Regions from separate parts of the Homo sapiens genome. Here region 2 is linked to region 1. Evidence: fine-mapped expression QTL. A gene starts in region 1. The other region holds a variant in brackets. All regions are shown on one strand. Distances are from middle to middle. Region 1 holds the start of SHLD2 (shieldin complex subunit 2). Region 2 overlaps GLUD1 (glutamate dehydrogenase 1).

The links. PIP is the estimated chance that this variant, and not a neighbour inherited with it, causes the effect. A credible set is the group of variants that fine-mapping cannot tell apart.
Region 2: its variant is the best candidate, but not a certain one, in a credible set for the expression of SHLD2 in whole blood (TOPMed, PIP 0.68).

What each region holds. Positions count from the first base shown.
Region 1 is chr10:87,088,599-87,101,283 of GRCh38, reverse strand. It overlaps SHLD2 (shieldin complex subunit 2), which reads right to left and starts at 6,078. Exons shown (of 10, transcript NM_001330112.2): 1 at 6,036-6,078; 2 at 4,295-4,350. GLUD1 (glutamate dehydrogenase 1) reads left to right here and starts at 6,441. Exons shown (of 13, transcript NM_005271.5): 1 at 6,441-6,959. The coding sequence starts at 6,515. RefSeq lists enhancers at 5,428-5,487, 7,892-8,429 and silencers at 5,530-5,787, 5,708-6,407, 6,528-6,667, 6,868-7,207.
Region 2 is chr10:87,039,217-87,051,901 of GRCh38, reverse strand. GLUD1 (glutamate dehydrogenase 1) reads left to right here. Exons shown (of 13, transcript NM_005271.5): 13 at 32-1,700. The coding sequence ends at 151. It also overlaps the pseudogene RNU6-529P. Among named protein-coding and RNA genes, the nearest start is that of FAM25A, 25 kb to the right of the region's middle. The variant A/G (reference allele first, on the strand shown) is at 6,510.

The DNA of each region.
Region 1 (12,685 bases):
AGCCAAATATACACAAGGGTATAGACTCAAAGTATTACTGCTGCAGCCTTGATTCTCTTGAATTCTATACTTGATTCTAAATTATTCTGGGGCCAGAATATGCTTGCCATTAAGGAAATAATCTTGTTATGCCACAGAATTTCGGGAGTTACCATCTCATATAATTTTTGGGAATTGCTAACTTAGCTTACTTGGTTTTAAGAAGTGCAAAACTTATCCTCTGACAGTGATAAAACAGTCCTGAGAGAAGTTTTAAAAGACCTACATATACAGAAAGATATCCCATGTTAATGAATCAGAAGATGTAATATTGTTAAAATGACACTAATTCCCAAATTGATCTACAGATTCAACATAATCCCTATCAAAATTCCAGCTGACTTCTTTGCAGAAATTGGAAACATGATCCTAATTCATATGGAGATAGAATAACCAATCTTGGAAAAAAAAAATTTGGAAGACTCACATTTCCCAATTTCAAAATTTACTACAAAGCTAGAGTAATCGGCCTGGCACAGTGGCTCATGCCTGTAATCCCAGCACTTTGGGAGGCCGAGGCGGGCGGATCACCTGGGTCAAGGAGTTCGAGATCAGCCTGACTAACATGATAAAACCCCATCTCTACTGAAAATACAAAAATTAGCTGGGCGTAGTGGCACGCACCTGTAATCCCAGCTACTCAGGAGGCTGGAGCAGGAGAATTGCTTGAACCTGGAAGGCAGAGGTTGCAGTGAGCCAAGATCGCGCTATTGCACTCCAGCCTGGGCAACAGAGTGAGACTCCATTTCGAAAAAAAAAAAAAAACTGGCGTAATCAAGACAATGTATACTGATATAAGGATAGACATATGGATGAACTGAACTGGCGTCCAGATATAAACTTTCACATTTAGGTCAATTTATTTTTCATAGAGTGTGAAGACAATTCAATGGGAAAGAAATAGTCTTTTGAGCAAATGAACTGGATAGCCACGTGCAAAAGAATGAAACTGGATCCTTTTCTCGGAAAAAGTAACACAAAATGGATAAAAACCTAAATGTAAAAGCTAAACCTATGAAACTCTTAGAAGAAAACAAAGGAGTAAATCTTCATGAAGTCCAATTAGACAATGATTTCTTACATATGATACCAAAAGCATAAGTATCGAAAGAAAACATTTATAAATTGGACTTCATCAAAATTAAAAACTTTTGTGCTTCAAAGTCACTATGAAAAATGGGAAAATATAACCTAAAGAATGGATGAAAACATTTTCAAATCTGGTAAGGAACTTACATCTAGAACATATTAAAAAAAAACTCTTACAAATCAATAATAAAAGACAACCTGACTTAAAAATGGGCAAAGGATCTGAATAGACATTTCTCCAAATAAGACATAAAAATGGTCCATAAGCACATGAAAGATGCTAAATTTTATTAGTCATCAAGGAACTGCAAATAAATACTTCATACCCACTAGGATGATTATAATAAAAAACACACATAACAAGTGTTGGTGAAGAAGTAGAGAAATTGGAACCTTCATTCACTGCTGGTAAGAATTAAAATGGTGTAGCCACTGTGGAAAAGTTTGGCAGTACCTCAAAAATTTAAATATGGAAGTACCATTCCTAGGTATAAACGCACCCAAGAGAACTGAAAACATATGCACACACAAAAGTTCACCGCAGCATCATTCAGAATAGTCAAAAAGTGGAAATAATCCAAGTGTCCATCAATGATGAATAGATTTTTAAAATGTGGTACAGTCATACAACAAAAACTATGTAGCCATAACAAGAAATGAAGTACCTGATACATGCTACACGCATAAACCTTTAAAATACTCTGCCAAGTGAAAGAAGACGGTCACAAAGGGCCACATACATCTTTTATAGGAAAAGTCCAGAATAGACTGATTTAGTGAGACAGAAAGTAGAAAGTATATTTTTACCTTTCAAATTAAATTATTTTTAAAAATGAATGGTTCAAGAATTTATATGCTATGTTTTTCTAAATCCTAACAATCTTCTTCTAAAATATTTTTAAGAGAGAAAAAAGCATGCTATGGATCAAGAAAAACAGACCTGGAATTTTAAACCAGCTAAGGAAAACTCTAAGGCAGAAAACTCATTTGACTTTGTGGAATGCTATTGAATGTTCCCTTCAAGCTGAATTTTGGTCTTCGTTTGAATGGGAAATTACTACAAATAATTAAACTTTATTGTGTGAGGCATGGTGGCTCACACTTGGAATCCCAGCACTGTGGGAGGCAGAGGCGGGCATATCGCTTGAGCCCAGGAGTTCGAGACCAGCCTGGGCAACATAGTGAAACCCCACCTCTACCAAAAAGACAAAAGTTAGCCGGGAGTGGCGGCAGGTGCCTATAGTCCTAGCTACTCAGGAGGCTGAGGTGGGAGGATTGCCTGAGCCCAGGAAGTCCAGGCTGTGGTAAACTGTGATCGTGCCACCGCACTCCAGCCTGGGTGACACAGTGAGACCCTGTCTCGAAAAATAAAAATAAAAAAAAACCTTACTTTGCAAATTATCTGTATATTTTACAAAAGCAATCATAAATCTAAAGTTGAAATTCATTAGACTTTATATCACAGTAAATAATTTCTAACTAAATGGAACAAATACTTAAAATACTCCTTGGAATAGTATAAATAGTATAACTTTGGAGTCAGATACACAGGTTTGAATCTTACCCTATTTACAAGCTTGGTGATCATCAACAATTTGTTTGGTTTCTGTGGGCCTCACTCCCTGTTTTTTTTTTTTTTTTTGAGATGGAGTTTCATTCTTGTTACCCAGGCTGGAGTGCAATGGCGCAATCTCAGCTCACTGAAACCTCCGCCTCCCAGGTTCAAGCAATTCTCCTGCCTCAGCCTCCTGAGTAGCTGGGATTACAGGGATTCACCATCACACCAGGCTAATTTTGTATTTTTAGTACAGATGGGGTTTCTCCATGTTGGTCAGGCTGGTCTCGAACTCCCAACCTCAGGTGATCCGCCCGCCTCAGCCTCCCAAAGTGCTGGGATTACAGGTATGAGCCACCACGCCCAGCCACTCCCTGCTTCTAATAAATCAGGAATTATAATACCTACAGTGTGAAAAGAAATACTCCAAATATTCACTAAATGGGGGAAGAGATGGATAATTTCATTCTGTTTTTCTAAAATCTATTTCTGCTGTTCATATTTTTTTAACAACTTGTATGTAATTTTAAAACATAATGACCAGGTGCAGTGGCTCAACACCTGTAATCCCAGCACTTTCGGTGGCCAAGGCGGGCAGATCATTTGAGGCCAGGAGTTTGAGAACAGCCTGGCCAACACTGTGGAACTTCGTCTCTATTAAAAATACAAAAAAATTAGCCTGGCATGGTGGCGGGCGCCTGTAATCCCAGCTGCTCGGGAGGCTGAGGCAGGAGAATCACTGGAACCTGGGAGGCAGAGGCTGCAGTGAGCTGAGATTGCACCACTGCACTCCAGCATGGGCAACAGAGCAAGACTGTCTCAAAAAAACAAAACAAAACAAAACCATGATGATTTTAAAAATAAAAACATCTGTTTTATAGGGTACTCATGAAGCCAGTTTGTAAGGCACCTACACACAGGAGATTCTCAATTAAAAAAAAAATAGTAATTTCCACAGCTCTATTCCTCACCTCTTCCAAAGCTTCTTCAATTCTGCCTTTCCTTTTTTGAGATGAAGACTCGCTCTGTTGCCCAGGCTGGAGTGCAATGGCACGATCTCGGCTCACTGCAACCTCTCTCCCTGGTTCAAGTGGTTCTCCCAAGTAGCTGGAACTACAAGCACTGCCCAACCCCCTCCCCGCCACCACGCCTGGCTAATTTTTGTAGGCCCCCCACCACGCTTGGCTTATTTTTGTATTTTTAGTAGAGACAAGGTTTCACTGTGTTGCCCAGGCTGGTCTCGAACTCCTGACCTCAAGTGATCCGCCCACTTTAGCCTCCTAAAGTGCTGGGATTACAGGCGTGAGCCACCTCCTTAGGCCCAATTCCACCTTCTTGAATTCAGGTGAACAAGTCACAGAAGAAGCAAAGTTAAACATTTATTTTTCTGAAGGCTAAGGTTATAAAGAACAACAAAAACAATAAAACTAAGCTTTTAAAGATTTTTCCTCAGAACATAAACAAATAATTTAATCCAAAAAGAAAAATATTTCCATGTTTACTGATGCTAATCATTTTATTCTGAAACTCCGTGGGTTTTTTGCAGGAGTGGGGGATTGCAATGTAAGAGAGTAAAACGATAATACATCCAGAAAAAAGGAAATTTGATACCTTAATCTTTTGACCATCAAGGAAAATTCAGGATTCAGGTCAGAGTACATTTTTCACTGAAAAACACAGTGCAAATACAATTAATGACAATGACTTATTTAGCAAGTAAGGTAAAATATAAGTTCCACCTGTATGAAAAGATAATTTTGACTTTGAGAGTACACTTAGATGAATGTCATTTAACAGATCCAGGTTGTCACCTTATATTTTACACAATATTTCGAGAACTAAGAACTTTCTCTTCCATATTCTAAAAGATGAATAACATGAACATATCGGGAAGCACCATCGTTTTGCAGGTCCAATGGGTGTCATTTTAAAACCACCCAAGTACACTGAGACCGCTAACGCTAGTAATGTGGTGTTTGGCAGCTAGTTTTAATGACTGTCATTAGAGCTTTATTTTTTATTTTCTTTTTATAGAGACGAGCCCAGGCTGGTCTTGAACTCCTGGCCTCAAGCGATCAGCCTGCTTTGGCCCCCAAAGTGCTGGGATTACAGGCGTGAGCCACCGTGCCAGCCTCGTTAGTTTGAAAAGCACCAAAAGCTATCCATAGGAATGTGAACTTTAGCATTTCCTATCAAGTATGTATAAATACATAACTGAACCCTCATACAGCATAAAGCTTATAAATCATATACTGAGGCCAGGCGCGGTGGCTCACGTCTGTAATCCCAGCATTCTGGGAGGCCTAGGCGGGCGGATCACTTGAGGTCAGGCGTTGGAGACCAGCCTGGCCAGCACAGCGAAACCCCGTCTCTACTAAAAATGCAAAAATTAGCCGGGCGTGGTGGCGCGGGCCTGTAATCCCAGCTACCCCGAGGCTGAGGCAGGAGAATCGCTAGAACGAACCCAGGGAGGTGGAAGCTGCAGTGAGCCGAGATGGTGCCACTACACTCCCGCCTGGGCGACAGAGCAAGATTCCATCTCAAATAAATAAATAAAATAAAAAATAAATCATATACTGAACCATTTAACAAATACATATATTCCTGAGAAAGAATTTCCTGGGGGCATTATCGCATTTCTAGTTTCCTTATTTTAGACTATTTCAGAGGGAGATAGGGTCTCCCTCTGTTGCCCAGGCTGGGGTGCAGTGGAGCTATCGTAGCTCACTGCAGCCTCGAACTCCTGGGCTCAAGCCATCCTCCAGCCTCGACCTCCCAAAGTGCTAGGACTAAAGGCGTGAGCCACCGCGCCGGGCCGGAGCCTCTGTCTGCAAAGGTGAAGCAGTCAGTACTGTGGGGCGACACAACCACGACGTGCGTAACTATGCGATCTCCACACTGCGGAGCAGTTGAACGGGACAATAAAAGCTCGCGTGGTGAGAGCTTGTGGGCGAGTGACTCCCTTCCAGCTCACGCCAGCCACGCATAATCCAACTCCGGGTGCCACGCCGCTCTCTGCAGCCCTGGCTGGTGACGCCGAGCCCTCAGCCCGGCCTTACGCGGCGGCGGCTCTGCCTCGCTTTCCTGCCCACGTGTCAGCCCCTGCACGCCCGGCCCCGGCCTGAGGCCGCCAGAGGACAGGCCAGGGTGGGCCGCCCGTTCCGAGGGCGCGCGGGCGGAAAGGAGGGGCGCCCGTGACTCACATGACCCGGTCCCCGACCAGACCGCCAAGCCTCACCCACGCGGCGCTCGGGGGGACTCGGCCTCTGAGCGCCCTACAGAGGCCAGCCCCCGACCCCGACCTCCCTGGGCTACCCCCAACCCCCCTGAGGGACCCCCGCGGCGCACATACCTGAGAGCCCCGCCGGAGGCGGGTGCGGCCTCCGGGCAAATCCGGCCGCCCGTGGGCCCGCCCCGACCCGCCCCGACCCGCCCCGACCTTCCCCTCCCTGCCCCTCCCGTCCGTTCCCCTCCACTCTCCTCCCCGCCCTTCCTCTCCCCTCCCCTCCCTTCCCCACTGGCGCGCGAGCGTGCGCGCCGAGCCCGCCCGCGCCTGCGCGCCCCCGACGCCCCGCCGGCGCGCGCTGCCGCCAGCGAGGCCCGGGGAGGCCGCGGCGGAGGCGGAGGCCCGGCGCCCTGGGCGGCGCCCTGTCCCCGAAGTCCGTCCTCCCCGTTAGGTGGCGAGCGCCCGAGGGGAGGGGACAGCCGGGCAAGCAGGAAGCTGCGGCTTAAAAGGGCAACCCGCGCGGGACCCTTCCTCCCTAGTCGCGGGGAGTCTGAGAAAGCGCGCCTGTTTCGCGACCATCACGCACCTCCCCTCCGCTTGTGGCCATGTACCGCTACCTGGGCGAAGCGCTGTTGCTGTCCCGGGCCGGGCCCGCTGCCCTGGGCTCGGCGTCCGCCGACTCGGCCGCGTTGCTGGGCTGGGCCCGGGGACAGCCCGCCGCCGCCCCGCAGCCGGGGCTGGCATTGGCCGCCCGGCGCCACTACAGCGAGGCGGTGGCCGACCGCGAGGACGACCCCAACTTCTTCAAGATGGTGGAGGGCTTCTTCGATCGCGGCGCCAGCATCGTGGAGGACAAGCTGGTGGAGGACCTGAGGACCCGGGAGAGCGAGGAGCAGAAGCGGAACCGGGTGCGCGGCATCCTGCGGATCATCAAGCCCTGCAACCATGTGCTGAGTCTCTCCTTCCCCATCCGGCGCGACGACGGCTCCTGGGAGGTCATCGAAGGCTACCGGGCCCAGCACAGCCAGCACCGCACGCCCTGCAAGGGAGGTGAGCGTCGGCCGGGCCCCGTCCCGCCCTCCCTGCCTCCCCTGCGGCCCTCCCCTCCGGCCTCCTGCCGGTGCGGGGCCGCTGCTCAGCCCAGCCCAGCCCAGCTGGAGCGGGCCGGGTCCCCGCCCGGGTCACCCCGCCTCGGATGTGGCCGGCTCTGTGGATGGTGATTTTTCCGCCTTAAAATCATCATGCGATTGGCCTGCCCCCTCCCCCGCGCCGTCACCCCGGGCCTCTGTATATGCTGATCTTGCATGCAGAGTAGACGCTGCACCGGTCTCCTTTTGGTCCCGGTGTCTGTGTCACACACGGCGGGTCCTGCCGAAATGCACTTCTAGGAAAGGGAATGACCTGCCCGTGTGATAATGCCTCGTCAGTGTTCTTGGGCTTTTGTGAGTCTCCCCTAAATGCAAGCTGTCAAATTATTTTCTGGTATTTGTTCACTCCTGTTCCAATAGTGACAGATGATATCCGAACATAGAAAATGACTTGGCTTCTAAGTTTGAAATCTAGACAGTTTTATTAACCAAAGGAATTTACTAATCACGCGTTAATCGTTTCAATTAAGTAATTTTCCCATTCTGACAAGTTCTGTTTTATACCAAAAAAAAGGAAAAACACAAAAAAATCACAAGCAATGTAATATCTCTGACAAATAAACACCTGGCGTCCTGACAGTAAATTTACAGGTTGTAGGCTGCGGATGGCCAGCCAGCCAATGGAATGAAATAGCTCTGGGGGTGTGTACTGGTCCTGGCTAGCCCTGAATTTGAGCTTCAGGAAAAATATAGTACGTGAAGAAAGGGGTCAGATAATGTTTGGTAGTCACTGGGTTATCCTGTGGTTTAAATCATTTAATGTCTGTAGATTTGGCCTCTGTAGTCAGATTGCTTTCTTCGAGCAAATAAGAGCTTTTTTCCCCCCAATACATTGCATCATACCTCTTTAGTAACATAAAATGGAAAGGACAAACCACTTTTGTCTACTGTAAAAAAGAAAAATTATATGGAATAAAGAGCCCAGGGAGGCGAGGAGTCTTGTTGGAGGTGGATTGGCTGAGAAGCACAGAGGATGTTGGGCTAGACCCATGTCTCAGTAAACCTGGTTCTGTGGTCTTTCAGTTATGCCCGCTGACTTATGAGGATTTTTAGAAATCCTCTCTGTACCGGAAAAAACTTGAGCGGTGCTGGTGTTCCCAGCAGGGGGGACAAAGGTTGTTTTTAAAGATTTACTAAATTTGCATTGACCCCGCCCACTTCTAGGACTTAACTTTGGAGCTTAATTATCCCCTAGCTCTGGTTGCCTCAGCCAAAACCAATGTTTGAACCACTTTGACCTCTGATTTCCTTTCTAGCTTCAAAATTGTATAAAATGTACACACCGTCAGTCTCCTACATTTGCCTGCCTTCTTCCTACCACTCCCTTATTATCCAAACCAGGAAAACAAGTTCAGACTCCAAAGAAAGGCAAATAAGGATGTTGGAGGAAGTTCAGGCAATGTTTAGCAAATATTGAGTTGCATCGTTTTCTTAAAACGGACATCAAGTTTATTTTTTACTATCTTGCTGGCAGCATTTGCCAGTCCTTTAAAAGGTGTACAGATAAATCAGTGTATGTGGTTTTCTGCAGGATGATTTGGTCTCTGAAATCCTTTTTCTTCGATTCTTCAGATGCCCAGCTCTCTCCTGTTTTTATAAGTCGCAGCTCCGCAAACTCACTGAAGCAACTCGTTTACCATAGTTTGTGAGTCCTCTTTCTCTTGTTGCCACAGCAGTTTTAATGCCAAAATATTGAACCTAGCAACAAATTGGGTCAGCCATACCAAAGCACTGTTACTGTAGCACTTGCTTGTACTAGAGTGTAAGATACAATTTTCTGTTCCGTTTATCCCATTTACAAAAAAACATGCTATTAACCCCCAGCATATAAACAGGGAGAAACTGAATTGTTACTAGTAAACTGTTGCAAGCATTGATAGAACATCAAAGAAAATTGGCCTCTACAAAGTGACAAATTTATTATCTTCAGGAATTTGAAAGGCTTTCTGGATTGGGGAAGATTACATAGCTATGAAAGCCCTTAAATATTTTAGTTTGCTTAATAAACAGTATACTAAACAGATGATCAGCAAAATTTGGGTACTATAGCCTTCCATGCTTTGTGTTCAAGACATCCCCAGATCTATCTACCCATTTATCACCCTTGTTTGCAGAGAATGTGCATTGTAAGAGAGACAGGTCTTCTTTCTTAAAGCTTTTTTAACGTCTAAGAAATTGTTAACCTTTGTAGTCCCACTCTAGTCTTAGAAACACAGAATATATTAGGTGATTGAGATTTTTTTAAATGCTTTGGATAATCCCTATGAAATTCTGTCTTTCCCTCTTAAACATATTTTAACACGTTCTTCTTACCTCTCCCCACTAACCTGTCTTCTCTCCCATTGGTTCTTTGCCAAAAAAAAAAACCTCATCTGCCTCTCTCCACCCTTTTACCAACCTTCAGCTTTCTGTATCTCATTTTCCCTCAAGAACAACCTTATCCCTGAGTTTTCTAAATTAAAATTCTTGAGGTTGAAGCAAAGCAACAATCTAGCAATAATCTCTAAGGGAAACAGATGGTTATAAGACTTGGTGGCTGATGTGTACTTTTTCCAAGTAAATATTTAATAATACACACTGTTTTTGTGCTTTTCTTTTCCCAGTTACTACATGTACCTGAGGCCGTTAGATTTGTCTGTGTTAAGGATTTGAAAGGGTAAGCTAAAGGATCTGAAGGGAAGTTTAAGTGAGGCCTTAAAAATATTTCCAGCAAAGGGGCATAGTGTGAGAATATGCGACTGATTTGAGAAGACTGGTTCAAAAGTTCTGGTGGGTTTGGAAATATTATCAAAGATTGTTCTATTAACTTTCCCAGAGTAAATTATCTGTATTTCATTTGCTATGGTTCTGCCTGAGACCAGTCTACCTTTTTAGAAGGAAGTTTATTGTTTTAAAGTCAGTTTGGAGGGAAAGTACAGATTGATAATAGCAATTTATTGATGGTAGGAGTCAATTAACTTTCTCTTCCAGTCTGCCCCCCCCCAGTTGTCTTGATATTAAAACTATTAAAATTCCCTATCACTGATGCTACTATCATAAAATTTTCTAAAATTATCATAATTTACATATAGTTGATGGACCGTAGATGGAGTTCTCTCATACATTGACCCTAAGTCTTTTAATTACAAATATTAGTACCCAAAAAAGTGTACCCTATATTAATCCAGTAACTAGTTTTTAAAAGTCAAAATGCCAGAAGGAAACAGTGGAATCTTGATGACATAATGCAAGGGAAGACCGGAGTCAATGCAGTGTTAAAGACGCCCTCAGCCTCTGGGATGTCATTGTTTAGCGCTTAAGGGAAGACTATAGAAAGCACTGATACTGATTTAAAATGAGATATTTCTCTGCCTTCACTGGGGGAAAAAATGTTTCTGACTTATTTTGCTGTGCTCAATTGACAACCATCAAAACTTAGGTAACTTTTAATAAACTCACAGTTTCTAATATTTTTAAGTGGCTGTGTGTCTGCATCTGCTGCCACAGATAAAATATAACCTTTGTAGGTGAATTTAATTTAGGACTTTTCTGAAAGTTCAGTCAGAGGATAGGTAATTTGTGTGTCTTTTAAAAGCACTTAGCCCCGAGGTTGTTGTTTTTAATACATCTTATTTAAATACGGAAATGTGTTGCCCTTATGCCTTTTTATTTCATGGAAGCCAAATGCGTCTTTTCTCCCAAAGTATACTAGAAAATGAAGACGCTTGGTAATGGTAGTGATCTGTACATCAGATTTCAGTCTTTCTGTCACTTGCGTGTATGAATCCATTTAGCAAGTTTGCTTTTGGCAGTAAAGCCCCACGTGCAGGAAGACAAACAGCTGCTCACTCATTATCCAAAGTATACTTTGTAAGAATTAGGGCATCAAAAATTGGATCCTAAGCACCAATATATATTAAAGTTCAGTACAACTTGTAGTGTTTAAGTACAAGAAATAAAAATTGAGCCTGAACTTTTGGCATATAGTGGGAAGAAATTAGGTTTACCGCTGTTAATAATTCAGAGTGCTTAGGAAAATCGGTTTTTATTTACTTATGTTAAAAATACTAAGGGTTCTGTAACCATTAAAAACTAAAATACTAACCTGTAGATGTTGAAAAAATCCTAGACACTAGTCTCTGCCACGTGACTGTTCTTCTTTTCTATTTATTTTACCCAATAATTAGGCTTTTACAATGTAAGTAATAAAGAGAAAAATCTCTAGTATCACTTTAGAGCACATTGATTCATAAATAGCCCATAAATTTTGTACTCAGCAACCCATAAAATACACATGCATGATTCACATAATCAAATAGTAACGAAAGTTACAAAATGAAAAGTGAAGCAGCTCTACCCCAAGTCCTTCCCCCAATATAACCATGAACAGTCTTAAATCTAATGCCGCTGTCTAAAACTGACTAGTTATTCAAATGAATCAATATTTTCCCCTTTCCAGAGGCAGAAATTAATACAGATTCAAGTGTTCACTATCAAGTCGGAATTGTTAATATGTGAAATACTACTGTTAAAGGCAGGAAAGGCTTTATTAAGGACAAGAAGACAAACTAGGAGAAGGAGCTACTCAAGACCTTCCGATTATCTTTACAAAAAGGCAACTACACCTAGAAGATTCTGCAGCCACACACATTCTGCCTTCACTTGAGGTCAACTGCCTTCACCAAGGTCAGATATTAGCAAAGGCTAACATTTATTCAGCTCTGTGTGTGCCAGGCATTTTATTAAGAACTTTTCATGCATCATCAGTTCTATGCCTTATAGCAACAATGCATGTAAGAACTTTTCATGTATCATTGCTTTTATGCCTCATGCAATACACTGTTGTCCCTGATTTCCAAATGTGGCTACTAAGGTTGAGGAGTGAAGTGTCCTTTGGCAGGGTGACACAGCTAGTACGTAGTGGAGTTGAGGTTCAGATTCTGGGCATCTGATTCCAGCACCCACCTTAATCATTGTTGTCTGGGATTTATTTATGCAAAAAGTTACAAATTGTATCTTAGGCTTTTAATTGTAAGCGCTGATTGAGAACCACTTCATGCCATTGACACAATGCTTCCTAATACTTTGGATCATAGATACCTTTGAAATTTCTGTTAAAAGCTATTAGAAGACCTACCTTCTTCCTAGAAAAATACATATTCAAACAGCTTTGCATATAAAACTCAGCATAGATGATATCTCTAGAGGTCCATTTATTCTAATTGCTAAGGAAATGAAATAACCTTTTTCCCCTACACCCAACTCCGAAGACCTGAAATAACATTTTAAACAGTTTTCCATCAAAAGAGGTTTGAAGACTTTGGTGTTTAAGAGATTAATGTGTTAGCCAGAACAACTCATTTCTCTACCAGTGTGTAGTCCATTTATCTTTAAAGATTTTCTATTGAATAATTTTGAAATTACTTTCTTAGTTTTCTTCATTAAAAACTAAGAAAATGCTTTGTTTATTATGAATTGCTATTTCTCTTGATTATTATTCTTGGAGAAAGTCTATCAGACGTAATTCTTCTGATTTGCTTCTAGGCTAGAGGAAAATGTGAAAGATGACAAATGAAAATTTCAAAGGTTGTCAGTAGTATGACTTCTTTTATCGTTTGTCATTATCACAAATATATCAACATAGGACTT
Region 2 (12,685 bases), 49 kb after region 1:
CATCTTCACTGCATTTTCTCTTTCATTTCAGCAAATTATGCGCACAGCCATGAAGTATAACCTGGGATTGGACCTGAGAACAGCTGCCTATGTTAATGCCATTGAGAAAGTCTTCAAAGTGTACAATGAAGCTGGTGTGACCTTCACATAGATGGATCATGGCTGACTTCCTCACTATCCTCTTCACATGTAACTTCTGCAGACCTATCACAAGTTTACATGTAACCACAGAAATCCCTTTCTCTCCTGACTCATTAATAATGGATACCATTCTCAACAAGTCAATCCAAGTCAGCCCGTTAAGGAGAAAGAAATTAAGGTTAGCGGATCATGTACAAGCTGAGTGTGAAAGTAGAAATCACCTACACCAGAGAGCCATTTTGGTATTTTGCCTTTAAATAAAAAGCCTCCTTTATCTGGCTGTGCAGCCTTGCTCTGTGGCTTTTCCCAACACAATCAGTGCTAGTGCTGGGGAGGAACAGTCAAGAGCAGTCAGTTGCTTGCTTATTTTTTCTGGATGAGTCTGGGACACACTGTAACTTTAACACATTTAAGAAGTAGGTGTGTGGCCTTTTCAGAAGGTGGCATGGTCCTCAAGTGAGTTCTTAGTATTTTATATCAGCAAAATAATTCAATTTTGCAGGTTGCAAACAAATATAAAACCTGTTTCTGTTTATGAATATTATTCTTTTAGAATAGAATAAGTACATGCTGCTGTAATAAAATTGCCTTTAATCACTTAACAAGCCTAACCTTGACTCAAACAGTGAATGCCTATAGAAATAATAAATGAAAAAAACTAGTATTTTTATATCATAAAACAATGTCATTTATAGCTTATCATTCATGTATTGTCCAGCAGACATTAAAAGCCCTGTGGATAATTAAGTTATCTTCATACCTGCAAAATGGTGGAGGCTATTTTCATTAAAACTGTCAGAATTTGCTTACTATAATTATGATACAGTCCAAAGAATGCAGTCACTTTTTATCATGTTAACTAATTGTTCTCTTTTGAAGATCTATGGTTGACTAATTAAACAATAATTCAAGTAGAGTGTCCCAGAAAAAAACCACTTGGGCTCCCTGTTTGGAGTCTGGCTGGCTCTGAGCATTGCCAATGGCCCCTACTCACCTGACTTTGTATCCTCTCCTTTTAGAGGCTTTGCATTCTGCACCCAGCTTCACTAACAGTGGGCTGAAAACATCCTTGGGTTGAGTGTTTCATTTGGGAGTTATTTGGCCAGGGCCTTTTGAACAGTAGTGTCCCCATGAAGTGCTAGATAATATATGTGTAAGAGTCAGCTTTTTTTTTTTTTTTAACTCTAACACCCTTCAGAAATTTCTAACTACTTTGTAACTGCATGGCTTAACCTGGTGATAAAAGCAGTTATTAAAAGTCTACGTTTTCCAAAACTTACGTTTCTTTTCTGTGTTTTTACATGTGGTAGTTTCTCTTTTCATAAGTTATAATACTGCAATTGGATTTCTGAAATGTTTATAGCGACCACCTGTATAACATTTCCTTCCACTTTATTGTGAGCTGCCCAGATTTTATTCTTGAATTGTTTTTTTTTTTTTTGTTCGGTGCTTTACACGTTCAGAGAAACTTCCCGAGTAACGAACTATAGAAATGATCCCTGAAAGCATAGTCTTTATTCTCGAATTATTTTGTATTTTATTAAATAATATGAACAGCTGTTCTTGAGAAAGAGGCTCTAATGTTGAAAGCTGATAGTGAAGTAACTTTTAGTGCCGTTTTTCACTAAAGGGGATTTAATGTGGAATAATTTAGCCACAGAATGTAACAACTATTGAAGAGAGAATACTAACTGTAATCAGAACTGGATTCTAGACTTGATTCCACCAGTTACTTAACTGCCAGTGTGAAGCCTGGCTTTCATTTGGTCTTTGTCCGTATGTCACAGTTCTGCCTCTGCATGCTCCTGGCATAGGGTCAGTCAGATAAACAGGCCCCCAGTATATGGGCATAGTGAGCCCTTCCCCAGCATGGTGGTGTCTATCTGCACTCTAGGTGGGCTACTAAAATGTGTAAGGGGGAAAGTGATACAAAAACCAGTTCCAGAATGTTAGAATAATGGTGGGGCAGCAGATTTAAGTCATGTGAATGTGGGATAAGTCTTAGTGGTGGCCTTTGACTATATATTGGAAATACTGATTTTTTTTTGGTTGGGGGGTTGGTTTTTGTTTTTTGAGACAGTGTCTTGCTCTGTCACCCAGGCTGGAGTGCGGTGGTGCAATCACGGCTCACTGCATCCTCTACCTCCTGGGATCAAGCAGTTACTCTACCTCAGCCTCCTGAGTAGCTAGGACCACATGTATGGGTACGACACCTGGCTAATTGTTTTTATTTTTTTGTAGACACGAGGTCTCCCTATGTTGCCCAGGCTGGTCTCACACTCCTGGACTCAAGTGATCCTTCCACCTTGGCCTCCCAAAGTACTAGGATTACAGGCATGAGCCACCATGCCTGGCCAATGGTAATTTTTTAAAGATTAATGTTGAGGAGTATTGTTGATAGTAATATTAGAAAACTAAATTGCCTGTGCTAGCTATATAAAGATGAGAGCACTAGTGTCAGTAATTTTGGCTCCTGAAGGTTTTAGTTTTTAAAAATCTGGTCAATTACTCTTTTTACCTTGACAGAAATTTTCTTTTTTTTTTTTTTTTTTTTTTTTTTTTGAGACGGAGTCTCGCTCTGTCCCCAAGGCTGGAGTGCAGTAGCGTGATCTCGGCTCACTGTAACCCCCCGCCCCCTGGGTTCAAGCAATTCTGCTGCCTTAGCCTTCCTAGCAGCTGGGACTACAGATGCGTGCCAGCACGCCCAGCTAATTTTCTCGTATTTTGATTAGAGATGGAGTTTCACCATATTGGCCAGGCTGGTCTCAAACTCCTGACCTCATGATCCACCCACCTTGGCCTCCCAAAGTGCTGGGATTATAGGGGTGAGCCACTGTGCCTGACCTATTTTCAATTATTTTTAAAACTCACACACGATACTCAAGTTACTTGCTTCTGAAATAGCCATAGATGACTTATATAGCACCTGAAGAAGACTTAACTGGTGCTTTATGAGCCTCTACACCAGTGTATTCTAATATCCCTGATTAAGGAGATGAGAAGTAAAGGCATGAATTTTCAGTGCTTTTGGCACCCTAACTAGTAGGATTGGTCATTCCTTTTTTCTATATTTTTTCTCTTTTCCTTTTTTTTTTTTTTTTTACTCCATGACTAGCCAAAGAGCTGATTTACTTTTTTAAAAACGCTTGGCATGGCTGAGCACGGAGGCTCACGCCTGTAATCTCAGCACTTTGGGACGCCCAGGCAGGCGGATCACAAGGTCAGGAGATGGAGACCATCCTGGCTAACATGGTGAAATTCCATCTCTACTAAAAATACAAAAAAATTACCCGGGCGTGGTGGCGGGCGCCTGTAGTCCCAGCTACTTGGGAGGCTGAGGCAGGAGAATGGCGTGAACCCAGGAGGCGGAGCTTGCAGTGAGCCGAGATTGCGCCACTGCACTCCAGCCTGGGCCACAGAGTGAGACTGTCTCAAAAAAAAAGAAAAGCCTGGCATGTTAACTCACAAGCAAATAAATTCCATATTCACTAAACATCCCTGACAGGCTTTCCCAGCCCTGCTGTTTGTTAAGGTAGTCAAAGCATGGCACATGAAGAAAACTACATCTATGGATATTGTACAAAATATTGTTTTTATGATTTTTTAATATTTTTAACAGACTTTTATTGACTTGTGTTTGTATTTTTATCAAACATACTTCATTTATTTATTTATTTTGAGACGAAATCTCACTCTATCACCCAGGCTGGAGTGCAGTGGTGTGATCTTGGCTTACCGCAACCTCCGCCTTCCAGGTTCAAGCGATTCTCCTGCTTCAGCCTCCGGAGTAGCTGGGATTACAGGCATGCGCCACCATGCCCAGCAAATTTTCGTATTATTAGTAGAGACGGGGTTTCACCATGTTGGCCAGGCTGGTCTCGAACTCCTAACTTCGGGTGATCCACCTGCTTCAGCCTCCCAAAGTGTTGGTATTATAGGCATGAGCCACCACGTCCAGCCTCAAACATACTTCAGTTTTTCACCTCAGCACTGTTGACATTTTAGGCTATGTAATTCTCTGCCTTGTAGGATGTTTAGTAATATCCCTGGCCTCTACACATTAGATGTCAGGAAGACCCCCTCAGTTATAACAATGACAAATATATTCAGATTGCCAAATGTCCCCTGTGGAACAAATTCATCCCTTGTTATGAACCGTGATCCAGAGAGCCAAATAGTGATACAAGGTTTATTGTTCACAATAGCTCGTCCCCTCCAATCCAGACACCACCTGCCTCACCATTTTCCACTGCCCCAAGGCAACCACTTTCAGCAGTCTTAAATGTTTCATTTTTATTCTATTTAAAGCCTTTGCTCATTTTTAAATTGGGTTTTGTCCGCATTATTGAGTGGTAAGGGTGCTTTACATATTCCACAGCCAGTTGTGGTAGTATAGGCCTATGGTCCCAGCTACTCAGAAGGCTGAGGCAGGAGGATCACCTGAGCCCAGAAGTTCAACACTAGTCTAGGCAACATAGCAAGACCCTATCTCTAAATGAATTTTTGAAATATATATTCTAGATAATTGACCTTTATCATGCATATACTTTGCAAATATTTCCTCTCAATCTGTTATCTTTGTGCTTTCTTGATAGTCTCCTTTTTAATCTTGAGAAAACATAATTAATTTTTCCTCTGGTTGGTGTGCTTTAGGGTGTATGTAAGAAACCATTGCCTAATCTATAGTCATGCAGATAGATATATCCCTATGGTTTTTTTTTGTTGTTGTTTTTTGTTTTTTTTTTTTTTGAGACGGTCTCGCTCTGTCCTCCAGGCTGGAGTGCAGTGGTGTGATCTGACGGCTCATGGCTAAGTGCAGCCTCTACCTCCTAGGCTCAAGCAATCCTCCCCCTTCAGCCTCCCAAGTAGCTGGGACTATAGGCCCATACCACCACCAAGCACAGCTAATTTCTGTATTTTTGGAGAGACAAGGTCTTGCCATGTTGCCCAGGCCAGTCTTGAACTCCCAGGCTCAAGCAGTCCGCCCACCTTGGCCTCCCAAAGTGCTAGGATTACAGGTGTGAGCCACTGTGCCCTGGCCTAGAAAGATTTTTTTAAGAAATAGTGACCAGGCCAGGTGCAGTGGCTAACATGGTGAAACCCCATCTTTACTAAAAATACCAAAAATTAGCAGGTGGGCAAGGTGGTGGGCGCCTGTAGTCCCAGCTACTGGGGAGGCTGAAGCAGGAGAATGGTGTGAACCCAGGAGGCGGAGCTTGCAGTGAGCCGAGATCCCGCCACTGCACTCCAGCCTGGGCAACAGAGCGAGACTCCGTCTCTAAATAAATAAATAAATAAATAAATAAATAATAAAAATAGTGACCAAAAATATCCCACATTTGATGGGAGTTGTGAATCTACACATTCAAGATGCTCAACAAATTCAAAGCAGGATAAACTAAAAGAGATCCACACTGAGGCACATTATTATCAAATTGTAGAAAGTTAAAGACAGGAAAGCAGCAAGAGGTAAGTGATTCATCCTGTACAAGGGATCTTCAGTAAGATTAACAGTTGCTTATCAGAAATCACGGAGTACAGAAGGCAGTAGGACACTTCTTCCCCTCTCTCCCACTGACAGATGATATATTAAAAGTTCTGACAGCAAAAAGTCAACCAAGAATCCTATATCTTTCAAAAAAAAAAATAACCTCTAAAAATGAAGGAAACTAAGACAGTCCCAGAAAAGTCAAGGGAGTTTATCATTAGTAAACTTGTGTTATAAAGAATGCTAAAGTCTCCCCCATGTTACTCTCAGGGAAGAAAAAAAAAAGAATGCAAAAGTGGAGCTGGGGCCAGGCATGGTGGCTCACGCCTGTAATCTCAGCACTTTGGGAGGCCAAGGCAGGTGGATGGAGTTTGAGAGCAGCCTGGCCAATATGGTGAAACCCCATTTCTACTAAAAATACAAAAAAATTACCTAGGCATGGTGGCGTGCACCTGTAGTCCCAGCTGACTGAGGCTGAGGCACAAGAATCGCTTGAGTCCGGGAGGTGGAAGTTGCAGTGAGCTGAGATGGTGCCACTGCACTCCAGCCTGGACAACAGAGCAAGACTCCATCTCAAAAAAAAAAGGGGGGGTTGGGGGAGCTCAGCATGGGTTCACGCTTGTAATTTCAGCACTTTGGGAGGCTGAAGTGGGATCACCTGAGGCCAGGAGTCCACAAGCAGCCTGGGTGACGTAAGGAGACCCCATCTATACAAAATAAAAATAATTAGCCAGACAGGGTAGCTCAGGCCTGTGGTCCTAGCTATTCAGGAGGCTGAGGCGGGATGATTGCTTGCAGCCAGCAGTTTAAGACTAGCCTGGACAACATAGACCCCATCTCTACAAAATATAAATTTAAAAAATTAACTGGCCATGGTGGT[A/G]TGCATCTGTAGTTCCAACTACTCATGATGCTCACTTGAGACCAGAAGTTGGAGGTTACAGTGAGCTCTGATCACACCACTGCACTCCAGCCTGGTTGACAGAGCAAGAACCTGTCACTAAACAAAAATAATAAATGAATAAAAATATAAGAGTTCTTGGCCAGGCACAGTGGCTCATGCCTGTAATACCAGCACTTTGGGAGGCTGATGTGGGTAGATCACCTGAGGTCAGGAGTTTGAGGCCAGCCTGGCCAATATGGTGAAACCCTATCTCTACTAAAAATACAAAAATTAGCCATGTGTGATGGCACGTGCCTGTAATCCCAGCTACATGGAAGGCTGAGGCAGGAGAATCACTTGAATGTGGGAGGCAGAGGTTGCAGTGAGTGGAGATTGCACCACTGCACTCCAGCCTGGGCAACAGAGCAAGACTCGGGCTCAAAAAAAAAAGCTAAAGTGAGTCCTTCAGGCTAAAATGAAAGGATACAAGATAGTAACTCAAAGCTATATGAAGAAATAAAGAGCACTGGTAAATGCAACTATGTCGCTAAATATAAAAGCTAGTATTACTGTATTTTGGGTATGCTATTCCTCTTTGTGATTTAAAAAATGCATAAAGGCCGGGCGCGGTGGCTCAAGTCTGTAATCCCAGCACTTTGGGAGGCCGAGGCAGGTGGATCATGATGTCAGGAGATTGAGACCATCCTGGTTAACATGGTGAAACCCTGTCTCTACTAAAAATACAAAAAATTAGCTGGGCATGGTAGCGGGTGCCTGTAATCCCAGCTACTCAGGAGGCTGAGGCAGGAGAATGGCATGAACCCAGGAGGCGGAACTTGCAGTGAGCCGAGATTGCGCCACTGCACTCCAGCCTGGGCGACAGAGCGAGACTCCTTCTCAAAAAAAAAAAAATGCATAAAATAATATGGATCTATGTTAATAGGCACTAATTGTTTAAAGACATAATTTGTTAACTATAGGTAGGGGACAGAGAAAGGAGCAGAGTTAATGTATGCTATTGAAGCTGAGTTGCTATCAGTCTGAACTAGACTTTGAACTCAGCATGTTAAATGAAATCTTCATAGTAGCCACTAAAAAAATAACTTTTAAAATATACAGAAAAGAATTTAAGAAAGGATCAAAATATTACAGGATAAATCATTAACCAAACACAAAAGAAGGTACTGAGGAGCAAAACACTTCATGTAGAAACTAAACAGCATGATGACGTAAGTAAGTTCTTTGGTGTATAGGTTTTTCTGTTTTTCTTTTTTGGGGTTTGTCTGAGACAGAGTCTTGCTCTGTCACTCAGGCTGGAGTGCAGTGTTTCATTCTCAGCTCACTGCAGCCTTTGCCTCCCAAGTTCAAGTGATACTCAGCCTCCTGAGTAGCTGGGATTGCAGGCGCCCACCACCACAGCCAGGTAATTTTTTGTATTTTTAGTAGAGACAGGGTTTCACTACATTGGCCAGGCTACTCTCGAGCTCCTGGCCTCAAGTGGCCCACCTGCCTCGGCCTCCCAAAGTGCCAGGCACAGGCATGAGCCACTGCACCCGGCCTGTTTGGGGTTTTTTTGAGACGGGGTCTAGCTCTGTTGCCCAGGCTGGAGTGCAGTGGCACAATCACGGCTCACTACAACCTTGACCTCCGCAGGCTCAGCTGATCCTCCCACCTCAGCCTCCTGAGTAGCTGGAACCACAGGTGTGCACCACCATGCCCAGCTTATTTTTCTATTTTTTGTAGAGACAGGAGTCTTGCTATGTTGCCCAGACTGGTCTCAAACGCCTGGGCTCAAGCAATCTGCCCACCTCAGCATCCCAAAGTGATAGGATTACAGGCCTGAGTCCAACCATAAGTAAGTTTTTGTTTTTTGTTTTTGAGTCAATCTCTCTGTCCCCCAGGCTGAAGAGCAGTGGTGCGATCATGGCTCACTGCAGCCTCACCTCCAGGCGGGAGCCACCATGCCGGTCAATTAACTTTTTTGTTTCAGTAATCACTTTAAATGTAAATAATCTGACCAATGGAAAGATCGGCAGAATGGATTTTTTTTAAATGATGTAATACACAATCCAAATATGCAACTTACAAAATACTCACTGTAGACCCAAGACACAAATTGTTTCAAAATGAAAAGACGGAAAGAGATAATCCATGCAAATAGTAACCAAAAGAGAGCTGGGGTGGCTATACTAATACCAGACAAAATAGATTTTAAGCCAAAAAATGTTACAGAAAGACATCGTATGTTGGTAAGAGAGTCAAATCACAAGAAGATGTAACAATTATAAATACGTATGAACTGAAAAAGAAAAAAAAAGGGCTCTAAAATGCACAGTCTAACAAAATTGAAGGAAGAAATAGTTTTACAATAACAGAGACTTCAACACAGGCTGGAGTGCAGTGACTCTATCACAGCTCACTGCGACCTCTGCCTCCCAGACTCAAGCGATTCTCCCACCTCAGCCTCCCCAGTAGCTGGAACTATAGGCACACGCCACCACACCCGGCCAATCTGTGTATTTTTTGTGGAGATGGGGTTTCATCATGTTGCCCAGGCTGGTCTCAAATGCCCAAGCTCAAGCAATTCGCCCACCTCAGCCTCCCAAAGTGCTGGGATTACAGGCCTGACCTACTGTGTCCAGTCAATACCCCACCTTCAATAGTAAATAGAACATCTAGACAAAATCAGTAAGGAACTAGAGGAATTGAACAACACACTAAACCAAATAGACCTAACAGACATATGGAAAGATATCCATCTAACAAGAGCAGAATATATATTCCTCTCAAGTGCACATGGAACATTCCCCATGATAAATCATATGTTAGGCCACAAAACAATTCTCAATAAATTTTAAAAGGTCAAAATTATACAAAGGGCCAGGTGTGGTGGCTCACAGCTGTAATCCCAGCACTTTGTGAGGCTGAGACAGGCGGATCACTTGAGCCCAGGAGTTCAAGACCAGCCTGGGCAACATGGTGAAACCCTGTCTCTACCAAAATAAAAAATAAAAAAATTAGCCGGCTGTAGTGGTGGTGAACGCCTGTAGCCCCAGCTACTCAGGAGGCTCAGGCAGGAGGATGGCTTGAGCCTGGAAGGCAGAGGCTGCAGTGACCTGAGATCATACCACTACACTCCAGCCTGCAGGACAGAGCGGGACTTGTCTTAAAAAAAAAAAAAAAAAAAAAAAACAGGCCAGGCTTGGTGGCTCATGCCTGTAATCCCAGCACTTTGGGAGGCCAAGGTGGGTGGATGACCTGTGGTCAGGGGTTCGAAACCAGCCTGGCCAGCATGGCAAAACCCCAACTCTAATAAAAAATACAAAAAATTAGCTGGGAGTGGAGGCAGGCACCTGTAATCCCAGCTACTTGGAAGGTTGAGCTAGGAGAATTGCTTGAATCTGGGAGGCAGAGGTTGCAATGAGCCGAGATCACACCACTGCACTCCACCTTGAGCAACAGACTGAGACTCTGTCTCAAAAAAAAAAAAATTATGCAAAGTGTCTTTTCCAACAAAAGTGTAATGAAGCTAGAAGTCAATAACAGGAAAACCTGGAGAATTTGCAAGTAAGTGAAAGTTAAACAACATTCTTAACCAGTGGCTCAAAGAAGAAATGACTAGAGAAATTGAAATACTTTCAGATGAATTAAAATAAAATGCAAGATACCAAAATTTATGAGATGGTGTGACAGGGGTACTCAGTGAAACTTATAGCTGGAAATACTTACATCAGACGGTCACGGTGGCTCATGCCTGTAATCCCAGCACTTTGGGAGGCCGAGGCGGGTGGATCGCGACCATCCTGGCTAGCACAGTGAAATCCCATCTCTACTAAAAATACAAAAAAAAAAAATTGGCCAGGTGCAGTGGCGGGCGCCTGTAGTCCCAGTTACTCCGGAGGCTGAGGCAGGAGAATGGCGTGAACCCAGGAGGCAGAGCTGGCAGTGAGCCGAGATCATGCCATTGCACTCCAGCCTGGGCGACAGAGCGAGACTCCATCTCAAAAAATAATAATAATAATAAATACTTTCATTAAAAAAGGACAATCTCATGCTTGCTTCATCAGCACATACACTAAAATTGGAACAATACAGAGATTAGCCTGGCCCCTGTGCAAGGATGACATGCAAATTCGTGAAGTGTTTCATATTTATTTTATTAAAAAAAAAAAAAAAGACCGGGCACGGTGGTTTACACCTATAATCCTGACACTTTGGGAGGCCGAGGTGGGTGGGTCATGAGTTCAGGAGATCGAGACCATCCTGGCCAATATGGTGAAACCCCGTCTCTACTAAAATACAAAAAATTAGCTGGGCATGGTGGTGCGCACCTGTATTCCCAGCTACTCAGGAGGCTGAGGCAAGGGAATCACTTGAACCCGGGGGACAGAGGTTGCAGTGAGCCAAGATCGCACACTGTACTCAAACCTAGTGACAGAGCAAGACTCCATCTCAAAAAAAAAAAAAAAAAGAAAAGATAAAAGGAACGATTTCAAATTAACAACCTAACTTTACACCTAAGGGGTATTTAACCTTTTGGTTTCCCTGGCCACATTGGAAGAATAATTGTCTTGGGCTAAGGGAGGAGACCACCCCTCATATTGTCTTATGCCCAGTTTCTGCCTCCAAAGAAAGAAAGAGAAAAAACTAAAAGGCAGAAATGAAATCCACAAGCAGACAGCCCAGCGCCACACCCTGGGCCTGGTAGTTAAAGATCGACCCCTGACCTAATCGGTTATGTTATCTATAGATTACAGACATTGTATAGAAAAGCACTGTGAAAATCCCTGTCCTGTTTTGTTCTTAATTGCCAGGGCATGCAGCCCCCAGTCACACACCTGCTTCTTGCTCAATCGATCACGACCCTCTCATGCGCACCCCCTTAGAGATGTGAGCCCTTAAAAGGGACAGGAATTGCTCACTTAAGGAGCTTCGCTCTTGAGACAGGAGTCTTGCTGATGCCCCCAGCCGAATAAACCCCTTCCTTCTTTAACTCAGTGTCTGAGTAGTTTTGTCTGCAGCTCGTCCTGCTACGGGGCCACACATAAAATGCACTAACCCTAACAATAGGTGATGAACTAAAAAAAAAAAAAAAAAAAAACCTCAAGAAAATCTCATACTGTTTTCTGTTATTTGTAAAGTTTATGAATTTGTGTTGGGCTGCATTCAAAGTTATCCTGGGCTGCATGTTGGACAAGCTTGACCTAAGGTGTAAAAGAAGAGCTAACTAAACCTACAGCCAGCTGAAGGAAGGAAATACTAGAGATTAAAGCAGAATGAAATAGAGAATAGAGGAAAAATAATTGTCAAAACAAAAAGTTGGTTCATGGGAAAAAAAAACAAATTTGATGAACCTTTAGTTAGACTGACTCAGAAAAAAAAAGAGAATAGTAAATAACTAAAATCAGAAAGAAAATGGTGACATTATTACTGATCTTACAGAAATTTTAAAGATTTTTAAGACAATACTATGAAAAATTATATTCCAAAAATTAGACATCTAGATAAAATGTAGATTCCTAGAAACACACAAATTACCAAATATGACTTAAGAAGAAATAGAAAATCTCAATAGACCTATAACAAGAAAAGAGAATACATACACACACATATACCCATACATAAACCTACTGGCCAGGCATGGTGGCTCACACCTGTAATCCCAACACTTTGGGATGTTAATGCAGGCAGGTTGCTTGAGCCCAAGAGTTCAAGACCAGCCTGGGCAACATGGCAAAACCCCATCTCTACAAAAAGTACAAAAACTAGCAAGGTGTGGTGGCTCACACCTGTAGTCCCAGCTACTCAGAAGGCTGAGGTGGGAAGATCACTTAAGCCAGGAGGTGGAGGTTATAGTGAGCCAAAGATTGCACCACTGTACTCCAGCCTGGGTGACAGAGCCAAAAAGCAAACAAACAAATAAACCTACTAGAGCTAATTTTAATTCAGCAAAATTGCAGGGTACAAAATCAACACACAAAAATTAGTTATGGAAATATACATGTTAAGATGGCCAACTAGATGCAGCCAGGTGCAACAGCTGCCACCGAGGGACTGATTTGACTGGTGCACTACTAATGGATCTTCAGAGGGAAGGCACTGAGAGTAGATGGAGGGAAGACACAGAAGCTAGGCTAAAGGGGTAGTAAGCTGGGAGGCCTGCATGGGGCTACTGC